Linked DNA regions of Homo sapiens: region 2 is linked to region 1. A link means that fine-mapping ties the variant in region 1 to the expression of a gene that starts in the linked region. Tissue or cell type: whole blood. Region 1 holds a variant in brackets; the other region holds the start of a gene. All regions are shown on one strand. Distances are from middle to middle.

Region 1 (5,373 bases):
GAGCAGGCTTTCCATTTCTTTTCGAGTTAGTTTTTGTAAGTTATGTGTCTCTAAGAATTGGTCCATATTGTCTTAATTTTCCATTTTGGGGGGTATAACACACATAATTTGAATGGCTTCAACATTTGAAGTTGTGTGTGTCCCTGTGGCAGAGATGTAGGGACAGTTGTGTCCCTTCAAGCGAGACCTTGCCATCCAGGGGCAGGGAGTACAGGGGTAGAGACCATCTCCAGCCACCATGCTGTCAGGCTGTGCCTGGGCTCTGGAGCTGAGGACACACTCATCCAGGCAGCTGCAGCCAGTGTCCAAGCAGGCAGGGCCTGGGCCTAATGCGAACCACAGGGAGCTCCCTAGCAGGTCATCTCCAGAGCCTCCCTGAGGCCTCCCGGCCTCCTCCCCTTGCTGCTGTTCAGGGGCATTCCTCACCAGTGAGCCTCTTGTGATACAAAGGCCACCTCAGCATCTGCCTCCCGGGGACTCAGCCCATTCTTGGCCATTCTTCATATTCGTTATTTGAACTTTCTCTTCAGTCCTTTCAAAGAAACACCCTTTGCCTCCATTTTCTTTTCAATTTCTGATCTGATCTATCATTAGCCATGCTGAAATTACAAATAAATATGGGTTAAAATATTATTTTATCAATTTCCCTGTTCTGTGTTTCTTTCTCTTGTTTTATCAGCAAAGCTGATTTTTTTTTTTTTTTTTTTTTTTTTTTTTTTTTTTTTTTTTGAGATGGAGTCTCGCTCTATTGCCCAGGCTGGAGTGCAGTGGCGTGATCTCGGCTCACTGCAAGCTCCGCCTCCCGGGTTCACGCCATTCTCCTGCCTCAGCCTCCCGAGTAGCTGGGACTACAGGCGCCCGCCACCACGCCTGGCTAATTTTTTGTATTTTTAGCAGAGACAGGGTTTCACTGTGTTAGCCAGGATGGTCTCAATCTCCTGACCTTGTGATCTGCCCGCCTCGGCCTCCCAAAGTGCTGGGACTACAGGTGTGAGCCACCGCGCCCGGCCTCAGCGAAGCTGATTGATCCACCATCTCATTAGTTTAAATCTGCCATCTCATTTTGTGCTGTTTGTTCTATTCATGGTTTTTTCCCTCTTCACTTTTGCCACTTTTGGATGATCTCCTGTCATCCCGCATGTCCCTCTGCTCGTTTGGAGACTGTACTCTGCTTCTGTCCCATGCTTATGGCATGTGTGCGTTTAGTCCATGCTCTCACCCACCTCTGGGGTTGGTTCCTGGAGCGCGAGGCGCGCGTCCCTCTCCATGCTCCTGTTCTGCTCACCTGTGGGGGTTCCCAAGTATTTTTATGAAACATTTTAATCTCACAAAGTATTGATATAGCCACTGTTAATTTGGAGTTATTGACCTATTTATTCTCTTTGCTCCACTTTCTTCACAAACCAGACATGCCATTTGAGATCACCTTTGCTTTCTGCATTTAGAATTTCTTTAAATGTCTGCTGGTGGCAAATTCTCTTTTCATTGTCCAAAAATGCCTTTATTGTATCCTCATTTTGGAAAACTGTTTCGCTGGGCTAGTATCTCAGGTTGGCATTTTTTTTATAGCAGCCTGTGATGACATTGTCCTGTTTTGGGGGCTCTGGTGGTGTTCACAGTGTTCATGTCCATTCCCCTTGAATCTAGACCCCACCCAGGGCTACACCAGTGCTAGAGCAGGACTCACACCTGACAGATGGCTGGTCCGCCTGCTCCTCCTTCACGGTCCTCCTGTCTAGATGAGGAAGCGAGAGACTCCCTCGGGAAAAGGCGACACAAGGGCCTTGGCCCTGTGAGCTTCAGCCCAGTGGAGGCACTCAGCACACTCCCCACCTGGGGCCCCTCCAGTACCTATCCCCTGTTATCACCTGTTACAGACACGTGTGCTCTGAGGAACAGAGAAATCCATGTTTTAACACCTTTATTTGTCACTTTACCAACTTGACACACAATGTTAACGACAGCAGACACAGGAGCAGTGTGCACACAGACACGAGCTGTTTCACTACAGGTTTGCAAGCCAGGCTCAACAGCAAGTCCAACAGGCAACACCACACCTCTCACCTGCAGGAGGAACAGCAGGGCCACCCCACCCCGCGGACGTCCGCGGTGAGTGCGGTTTAGACATCAGCAGAAGTGGCTTTCAGAGTCAGAACAGCCATGACGTGGACATCACCCGTCACACTGATAAAGTGATGCACTCAGTACTCCCTAATGTTAATCACACAGTGTAAAAATATATTGCA[CATAT/C]ATATATATATATATATATATAAATTTGTTTCCCTTTCTTGAAAAAAACTTAGTACAAACTAGTAGTTACACGATCCCTTTCAAGTTTCTCTTAAGTTGTGCAGATTTCCTTTGTGGTTTGGCTTGGTTTAGTTTTTTAAGAGGTCGAAAGAAAGAAGTAAAGCATCTCGATGTGCCCAGGACTCCCCATCACATGCCCAGGGACAAACGCTGCACCCTGGACCACCAGAGCTCACAAAGTGTTCAGTAGTAAGAGGAGGAAAGATGCAGGTTCAGTGTTTGAAGGACGTTCTAGCCTATTGATAACATCACGGTCCAGCCTCATCTTCCCCCTGTGCCATCCCCTCGTGGTGTGTGCTGTGGGGTGGGAGGGTGGCCAGTGCACGCGTGATTGCCCACAGGAGGAGATGAGCTGGGCCAGTAGAGGGACAGGTAAGTGTCCAGGGCCAAGGCATCTCCATCTCAACTCCTCCCCACTCCACTTGTACAGCAGGAGCCACAGGCCTGTGTGAAAACACAGGACAGGCCCTGTGCCAACAAAACACCATTCACAAAAGCAGGCGGCCGCAGCAGCCCAGGATGGGGGCTGGGGTAGGAGGTGATGCCCACGCAGGGCTGCTGTGGTCAGCCCTGAGCTGGCATCCCTGGGGCCCGGGATGGAGTGGCACCAACAGGCAAGTGGGGCGGCCACAGGACATGATGCCAGCCCAACTCCACCATCTGCGCCCAAACTTGGACAGGATATTAGAAGGTGTAAAAGTAGTCCAGTATAAATATATATCTTCTACAATATTTTAAACATATAATTTGAACTTTAATTTTGGTAACGCTAATTGTTAGGAACACTACCTGGTTGCTTATCCTATAGCAGTAAATTAAAAATAAATAAGCACTCTGGCGTGAACAGTCTTCTCAGCGCTCTCCCTCTGCCTTTCTCCTTTCCTGATGCTGAGACACGATCAGCACTGTCCTCCCGACAGAACCTATTCCTGTGTCCTGGTGTCACCCCCAACAGAACCTGTCCCTCTCTCCTGGTGTCACCCCTGACAGAACCTGTCCCTCTCTCCTGGTGTCACCCCCGACAGAACCTGTCCCTGTCTCCTCTTGTCACCCCCAACAGAACCTGTCCCTCTCTCCTGGTGTCACCCATGATAGAACCTGTCCCTGTGTCCTCGTGTCACCCATGACAGAACCTGTCCCTGTGTCCTGGTGTCACCCCCGACAGAACCTGTCCCTGTGTCCTGGTGTCACCCCTGACAGAACCTGTCCCTCTCTCCTGGTTTGCAGGTTGTGCAGTTTGTTATTCACAAATACACATTTATTTTCTGTTGAACCGTGGTTAGTAGAAGCTAATTGGCAGTGCATAAAAACATGCAGAAGAGAACACACACCTGCCTGAATTCACAATATTCAGAAACTGACTGAGGAAGATGCACGGGTCTGTTATGTGCAGTGGGGCTGCCGTCCAAACAATGTTCTGTGTTCGGAGGCGGCACACAGATGCAATTACGGATTCCACAGACAAGTTGTAACTGACAGTGGTGACCACTATGTCCTCGTGACTTTATTTTTGCTACCCCTCCTGGCTAGGTGACAGAGATGGGAGCCGAGTGGGTGTTTTCAAAGATTCGCTTTGGAGCTGAGTGGAGAAGGGTGCTCTCCTGGCTCCCGCATGTCTGAGAAAAGCCTGAGGGCCGCTGGGGGAGGGCGTGCCTCTAACTCGTGGGCACCAACCCTGGAAGTGTGGAGGGAGAGTGGGGGCGTGGGGCCTCTCCCTCCAGGATCCCAGGGTGCTCCAGGCCAGGACGGGCAGGGTGCCACAGCAGCCTCGATCTCATTCACGAAACCCACAGGCGTGGCCTAGGGTTTGGGATGCACGCCACGATTTTCTCTCTCAGAGTGAAGGGACCACTTCTGTGAATGAGCTCACCTCCAGGGGCCAAGATGGGAGCCATGAGCCCCGCCGCTCCGGCCACTCCAGCCAGGTCTGGGAAGGGCTGTGGTGAGTCGGTGCTGGCCGTGTGGGCGAGGTGACCCGTCGGTGACAGGGCCTGCTCCCTGCGAGGTCGGGTGGTGCCCGGGCCGGGCGGAGGCTCTTCTCGTGCTCAGGGCCGGTTTCTGGTGTGCTCCCGATGCGCTTGGCTCTTTTCTCGAGGCCGTGCTTGTCTGAGGCCAACCAGGGACCAGGAGGCAGCGTCCTGGTGCCCAGCACCTCTCCTCAGTGTCCCTCGTCCCCACAGACCGGATCAGGGCCTGGCGAGCCTCTGTGCCTGCCGTGCGGTGTGAGGACCCGCGGACCCCAACCCGCCCTTCCCTCCGTCCTGACCCGGCGCCAGGCTCAGCTCCAGGGCGAGGTCCTCTGGAGTCATGTTCGTTCTGCGTGGCTTGGCCGTGACTGTGGGGACTGGGCTGCCCACGGACAGAAAGGAGAAACGCAGCCTGTGACCAGGAGACGCAGCCCAGGGTGGAGCCGCGCTGGGGCCAGGGAGGCCGAGGAGGGCAGGAGTCCGAGGGTGTAAGGGTGCCAGGGCCTTCCGGGTCTCAGGCTTCGGGACCTGGGGAGCCACCCTGTTTGGTGACCACTCGTCCTCGGCCTTTTCAACACAAGGGCTTTGGAGTTGTGATGGGCTGTTATCGGGTGATTCCGGTGGCCACTCGTCTGTGATCGGGTGATTCCGATGACTGCTCGTCTGTGATCGGGCGATTCTGGTGACCGCTCGTCTGTGATCGGGTGAGTCCGATGACTGCTCGTCTGTGATCGGGTGATTCCGATGACTGCTCGTCTGTGATCGGGCGAGTCTGGTGACCGCTCGTCTGTGATCGGGTGAGTCCGATGACTGCTCGTCTGTGATCGGGTGATTCCGATGACTGCTTGTCTGTGATTGGGCGATTCCGGTGGCCGCTCGTCTGTGATCGGGCGATTCCGGTGACCGCTCGTCTGTGATCGGGTGAGTCCGATGACTGCTCGTCTGTGACCGGGCGATTCCGGTGACCGCTCGTCTGTGATCGGGTGATTCCGAACCGCACATTCAGAGTTGTTTTCAAATGTTTCCGCACGTTAGTTCTGCCTTTCACACGCGGTCCAGCCAGGTTCAGCGGGGGCACAGGGCTGGGCTTGGGCAC
Region 2 (5,373 bases), 48 kb before region 1:
AGCCAGGATGCTGTCCACTGTTTGTCTCCTGGCGGGACAGAATTCCACTCAGTGCATATCAGGGGCAGTGATGGGGCTGGGGGTGTGAGGGCTCAGCTGTGCCCTGAACTCCTTCACAGTCTTGCAGGAGGGGTCATGGAGCCATATCTGGGTTTGCAATTTTTGGAAAGTTACGTGACGATCTGCACTCAGGAATGCTGAGTGTTCGGCAGGCCCCATGAACAGTGATCAAATGTGACGCTGTGTGTCCCACAGCCTAAGGGCTGTGGCAGAGACCAGGAGGGCCATCAGCTCCCACAGCTTTCGAGTCCACCTCAGGGCTCCTCCTTGCTGACCTCCCTGGGTTGTCAGTGGAGACAGCCACCCTCCCACAGAGCACCTGCCTGAAATGGGCCAGGCCGCCCCTGTGCCCTGGCTCTTGCTGCACATGCTGAGGTCAGCACGGAGGCGCCCTCGGGCACCAGCATGCCCTCGGGTTTGCAGCTTGTCAAATATCCCATGAAGGCAACCTGACCAAATGTGCTCTAACACCACTGGACCAATGGAACGTCTTGGGCTGAACAGATGCAGCCTTGCATCCACCGCCTGCCACCACCCTCTGTGTACACCCCCTGCACACACCTCTGCACACACCCCCCCTGCACACTGTTGCACATACCCCCTGCACACAGCCTGTGTACACTCCCTGCACAGATCCCCTGCACACAACTCCCTCACACATCCTCTGCACAAACCCTGTGTATACCCCCTGCACACACCTCTACACATACCTTCACACACCATGTATACCTCCTGCACACACCTCTGCACACACCTCCTGCACACACCTTGTGTACACTCCCTGCACACTGTTGCACACACCCCCTGCACATAGCCTCTGCACACAGCCTGTGTACACTCCCTGCACAGATCCCCTGCACACACCTCCCACACACATCCTCTGCACAAACCCTGTGTATACCTCCTGCACACACATCTACACACACCTCCTGCACACACCTTGTGTACACCCCCTGCACACTGTTGCACACACCTCCTGCACACACCTCCTGCACACACTGTTGCACACACCCCCACACATAGCCCCTACACACACCTCTGCACATACTGTTGCACACACCCCCACACATAGCTCCTGCACACACCTCCTGCACACACCTCCTGCACACACTGTTGCACACACCCCCACACATAGACCCTGCACACACCTCCTGCACACACTGTTGCACACACCCCTTGCACATACACCCTGTATATACCCCCTGCATACTCCTTATGTACAGCACTGCACATACTCCCTGCAGAGACCCTGTGTGCATCCTCTGCACACACCCCTTCTGTATACTGTCTGCACACACCCCCTACATGTACACCCTCTGCACACTCCTCCTGCATACACCCCATGTACACCTTCTGCACACACTCCCTGAACACATTCTGAGTACACCTCCTGCACACCCCGTGTACAACCTCTGCACACACCCCCTACACACTCCCCTACACACTCCCCTACACCATCCACACACACTCCCTGCACACAGCCCCTGCACACATTCCCCATGTACACCCTCTGTCTGTGTATACCCTCGTCTACTACCACCATACGTACCCCCCACCACTACCCTGCCTTGTCTATCACCCCCCAGGCTGTGACATACCAGGGATGTTGCCAACGAGCTGGTCTAATCTGGGGTGAGGGTTTCTGGGTGCCCCTAGACACCAGGAGAAAGGCGGGGAGGGGACACCCCTGGGGGTCTGGATTCACTCCACCAGGCGCTGGGCCACAGTGGTACGGTGACACAGTAGATGTCTTGAGCAGGATTAAAGTCTTCCCAATAAACAGGCTGAACTCTGTCTTCCTTGAAAGCTCTGTAGAAGGACCTCACAAGGATAAACACAGCGAGACCCTCCAGGGCGCGGTCAGCCACGAGCCACAGTGCTGGGCCTGTGACATCTCTGGAGGTTCTGGGGTGGAGAAGGACCGGCCGTGGGGAGTGACTGGCTGGGGAGAAGCTCAGCTCCCGCCCACCTCTGGGAGGCCCGGGGCTGGACGGGAGGTGCAGCAGACAAGGCTCCGGGCGGGTGCTGGGGTGTCTGGAGGGGTCCCCGCGGGGGGGTCGGGTTGGGTGGGGAGTCTAGGTGAGTCGGGGGTCCCCGGGGGCGCTGGGTTCAGGGTGGGAGCGGAGTGTGGATGGGGCAGGGTCCCCATGCCCACCACCAGCCGCGATTCCACCGCGCCTACTCGGGGTTTCCCCGGGAGGACACCGCGTGTGTCAAGGGCCGGGGCCTAGAAGGCGGCCGCGCCCAGGGAAGCCTTGACAGGGAGCTATCTGGGGCGGGGGCTGGGGTCGCGTGGCCAGTACCTGGGAGAACCGCCATTCAGGAGAACCCCCCGCCAGGCTCTTGGTTCCGCCCACGCAGTCCCGCCCCCTCCCCCAGCCACGCCCCTCGCCCCGCCGCGCAGGCCCCGCCCCGTCCCGCCAGGCTCTCGGTTCTGCCGACGCAGGTCCCGCCCCTCTCGTAGCCTCGCCCCGCCCGCCGCGCAGGCGCCGTCCGAGGGCTCCGTTTGAAACATGGCGCGGGCTGGCCCTCGGCTGGTGCTGAGCGAGGAGGCGGTTCGGGCGAAGAGCGGCTTAGGGCCTCACCGCGACCTGGGTGCGCCGGAGGGCGGGCGGGGGTGCAAGCGTGAGGTGGCGGGGGGGTGGGTGCCGAGCTTCCCGGGGCGGCGGCGGACCGTGGGCAGGCGGGACCCGTCTACGCAGGCGCCGCGGGCGTCCGGAACGGTCGCGGGCGAGCGGGGCGCGCGTGTCCAGGTGAGCGACCCACCCCCCGTGCCCAGGTGCGGCCCCTGCCCGCGTTCGGGTCCCGGCGTCCCGGCCCCTGCCTGTCTATCGGGTCACTGGTTCCGTGACTGGGGGTTACATCCGCTGAGAAGAGGGAGCCGGCCTTGCTGTCCAGGAGCGCAGCCCGCCCTCCCGCTGGGGATCACCTCCCTGGTTCTCCTGGGCCCACTCTGTGGTGATTGTTGCGCTCGGCCTTCTTGAGGATGTTGGTGGCCGGTTTCCTTCTTTTTGGCTTATTTTTGTCTGGTTTTGGCGTCAAGGTGAAGCCGAGCTCATAAACTGCTGAGAAGTGTTGCCTTCTCTTATATTTAGAAGAGGTTCTGTAGAGTGTGTGCTCATTGTTTGAATGTTTCCTGGAATTTTCCAGTGAAACCATATGGACATGTCAATTTCTGTTTTTGAAGCTTTTAAATGACAAATTCTGTATCTCTGGTTGTTAGAGAACCGTTCATATTAGTTCACCGCGAGTCTTGGCTGTGTGGGGTTTTGTGGCATTGGCTTATTTGAGCTAACTTGTGGAGTGTGTGTGTTGAGTTGTTTCTGGTGTTCTGTTGTTAGCCTGTTAATGTCTGTGTGTGGTCTGCAGGTGTTACTGGACCAACAGGTTCAGTCAGGTGCTGTGGGGGCCACAGGCCAATACACTGAGACAGTGGGGTTTGCAGCAGAGAAAGAGTTTAAGGCTGGCAGGGGCCCAGCAGGGAGGTGGAAGGAGGCCTCAATCCATCTCCCCAAGGAGATCTGAGCGGTTTTTTTTTTTTAGACGGAGTCTCACTCTGTCGTCCAGGTTGGAGTGCAGTGGCACAATCTCAGCTCACTGCAACCTCCACCTCCCAGGTTCAAGTGATTCACTCAGCCTCCTGAGTAGCTGGGATTACAAGCACGCGCCACCATGCCCGGCTAATTTTTTATATTTTTAGTAGAGACGGGGTTTCACCATGTTGGCCAGGCTGGTCTTGAACTCCTGATCTCAGGTGATCCACCTGCCTTGGCCTCCCAAAGTGCTGGGATTACAGGCATGAGCCACCTACACCCAGCCTGAGCTGGGGGTTTTAGAGGAACAGGACTGTGAGGAGCTGGAAGATTGGTGTTGTCAGTTGGTGGAGGTAAGGGCCATGGAATTATCAGGGTGTGGAAACTGCATTCTTTGGTGAATCCGCTTGCGGGGCCCTTTAGACCAGCTGGCATCAGTCCCCAGGTCCTGAAAGAATATCTCAAATGGAAAACTTAACGGTTTATAATGTCCAGGTTATTATCTGTAGAGTGGTTAAGGGGAACTGTAACCTCGTGACAAAATCCAAGTGATCCTGAGGCAGTAGGCACCACAGGGCTCTGAGGAAGCAGGTGAGAGGGCAGCTGACCTCGGGACATGCCGAGTCCTCCCTTCTTCCCTGATTAGTGCTACAAGGTTTACAGGGATATCCCTTTTCTGTTCCTGATGTTGATAATCTGTGTATTCTTTCTTTTTTAGTCTTGCTAGAGGCTTGTGAATGTTATTGATAGTTTCAAAGAACCGACTTTGGGTTTGATTTTTCTCCAGTGTTTTTCTAGTTTCAAATTTCATTGATTTCTGCTTTTTTTTATTTCCTTCTTTCTGCTTGCTTTGCATTTATTTTATACTTTTCTAAATCCTTGAGGCAAAACTGTAGATTATTGATTTGAGACTTTCCTATTTTCTATTATAAACAGTGCCACAAGTTTCCCTGTAAGCACTGCTTTAGCTGTATCCACAAATTTTGTTATGTTGTATTTTAATTTTCATCCAGTTCAGCGTATTTTAAGAATTTCCCTCGATACTTCCTGTTTGACCTGTGAATTTTTTTTTTTTTTTTTTTTTTGAGGTGGAGTCTCGCTCTGTCACCCAGGCTGGAGTGCAGTGACGCAATCTTGGCTCATTGAAAGCTCTGCCTCCTGGGTTCATGCCATTCTCCTGCCTCAGCCTCCCGAGTAGCTGGAACTCCTGACCTCATGATCCGCCCACCTCGGCCTCCCAAAGTGCTGGGATTACAGGCATGATCCACCGCGCCCGGCCTGACCTGTGGATTTTTAAGGAGTATGTTTTTAACGTTCCATGTGTGGATATTTTCCTGTTATTTTTCTGTGTGATTCCATTATGGCCAGAACATAATCTGTATGATTTTAATTCTTTTAAATTTGTCAGGGTTTGTTTTATGATCCAGCATCTGGTCTATGTTGTTGAATGTTCCAGGTGCACTTGAGTGTGTGTGTATTCTGTTGTTGAGTGGAGTGTTATGTAAATACATAAATATCAATTAGATCCTGTTGGTTGGTGATATTGTTCAGTTCTTCTGTATCCTTGCTGATTTTCTGTCTAGTGACTCTATTAATGACTGAGAGAGGGGTCTGGAACCCTTAACTGTAATTGTGGATTTGTCTGTTTTTTTTTTCACTTTGTATGTTTTGAAGCTCTGTTTGTTGAATTACATAGCTAGGATTTTTATACCTTCTTAGTGGACTGACCCTTTTAGTATATGTAGTCTTCCTCTTTTTTTTTTTTTTTTTTGAGACAGAG

What was found.
Region 2: CEP72 starts here. The variant in region 1 is fine-mapped to the expression of CEP72 in whole blood (INTERVAL, PIP 0.91).

The regions. Positions count from the first base shown.
Region 1 is chr5:657,958-663,330 of GRCh38, forward strand. TPPP (tubulin polymerization promoting protein) reads right to left here. Exons shown (of 4, transcript NM_007030.3): 4 at 1,905-5,373. It also overlaps a transcript of CEP72 not described here. Among named protein-coding and RNA genes, the nearest start is that of TPPP, 33 kb to the right of the region's middle. RefSeq lists an enhancer at 4,456-4,625. The variant CATAT/C (reference allele first, on the strand shown) is at 2,247.
Region 2 is chr5:609,789-615,161 of GRCh38, forward strand. It overlaps CEP72 (centrosomal protein 72), which reads left to right and starts at 2,552. Exons shown (of 12, transcript NM_018140.4): 1 at 2,552-2,655. The coding sequence starts at 2,574. It overlaps CEP72-DT (CEP72 divergent transcript), which reads right to left and starts at 2,422. Exons shown (of 3, transcript NR_103444.1): 1 at 2,364-2,422; 2 at 1,659-1,965. RefSeq lists enhancers at 1,475-2,405, 2,406-3,335.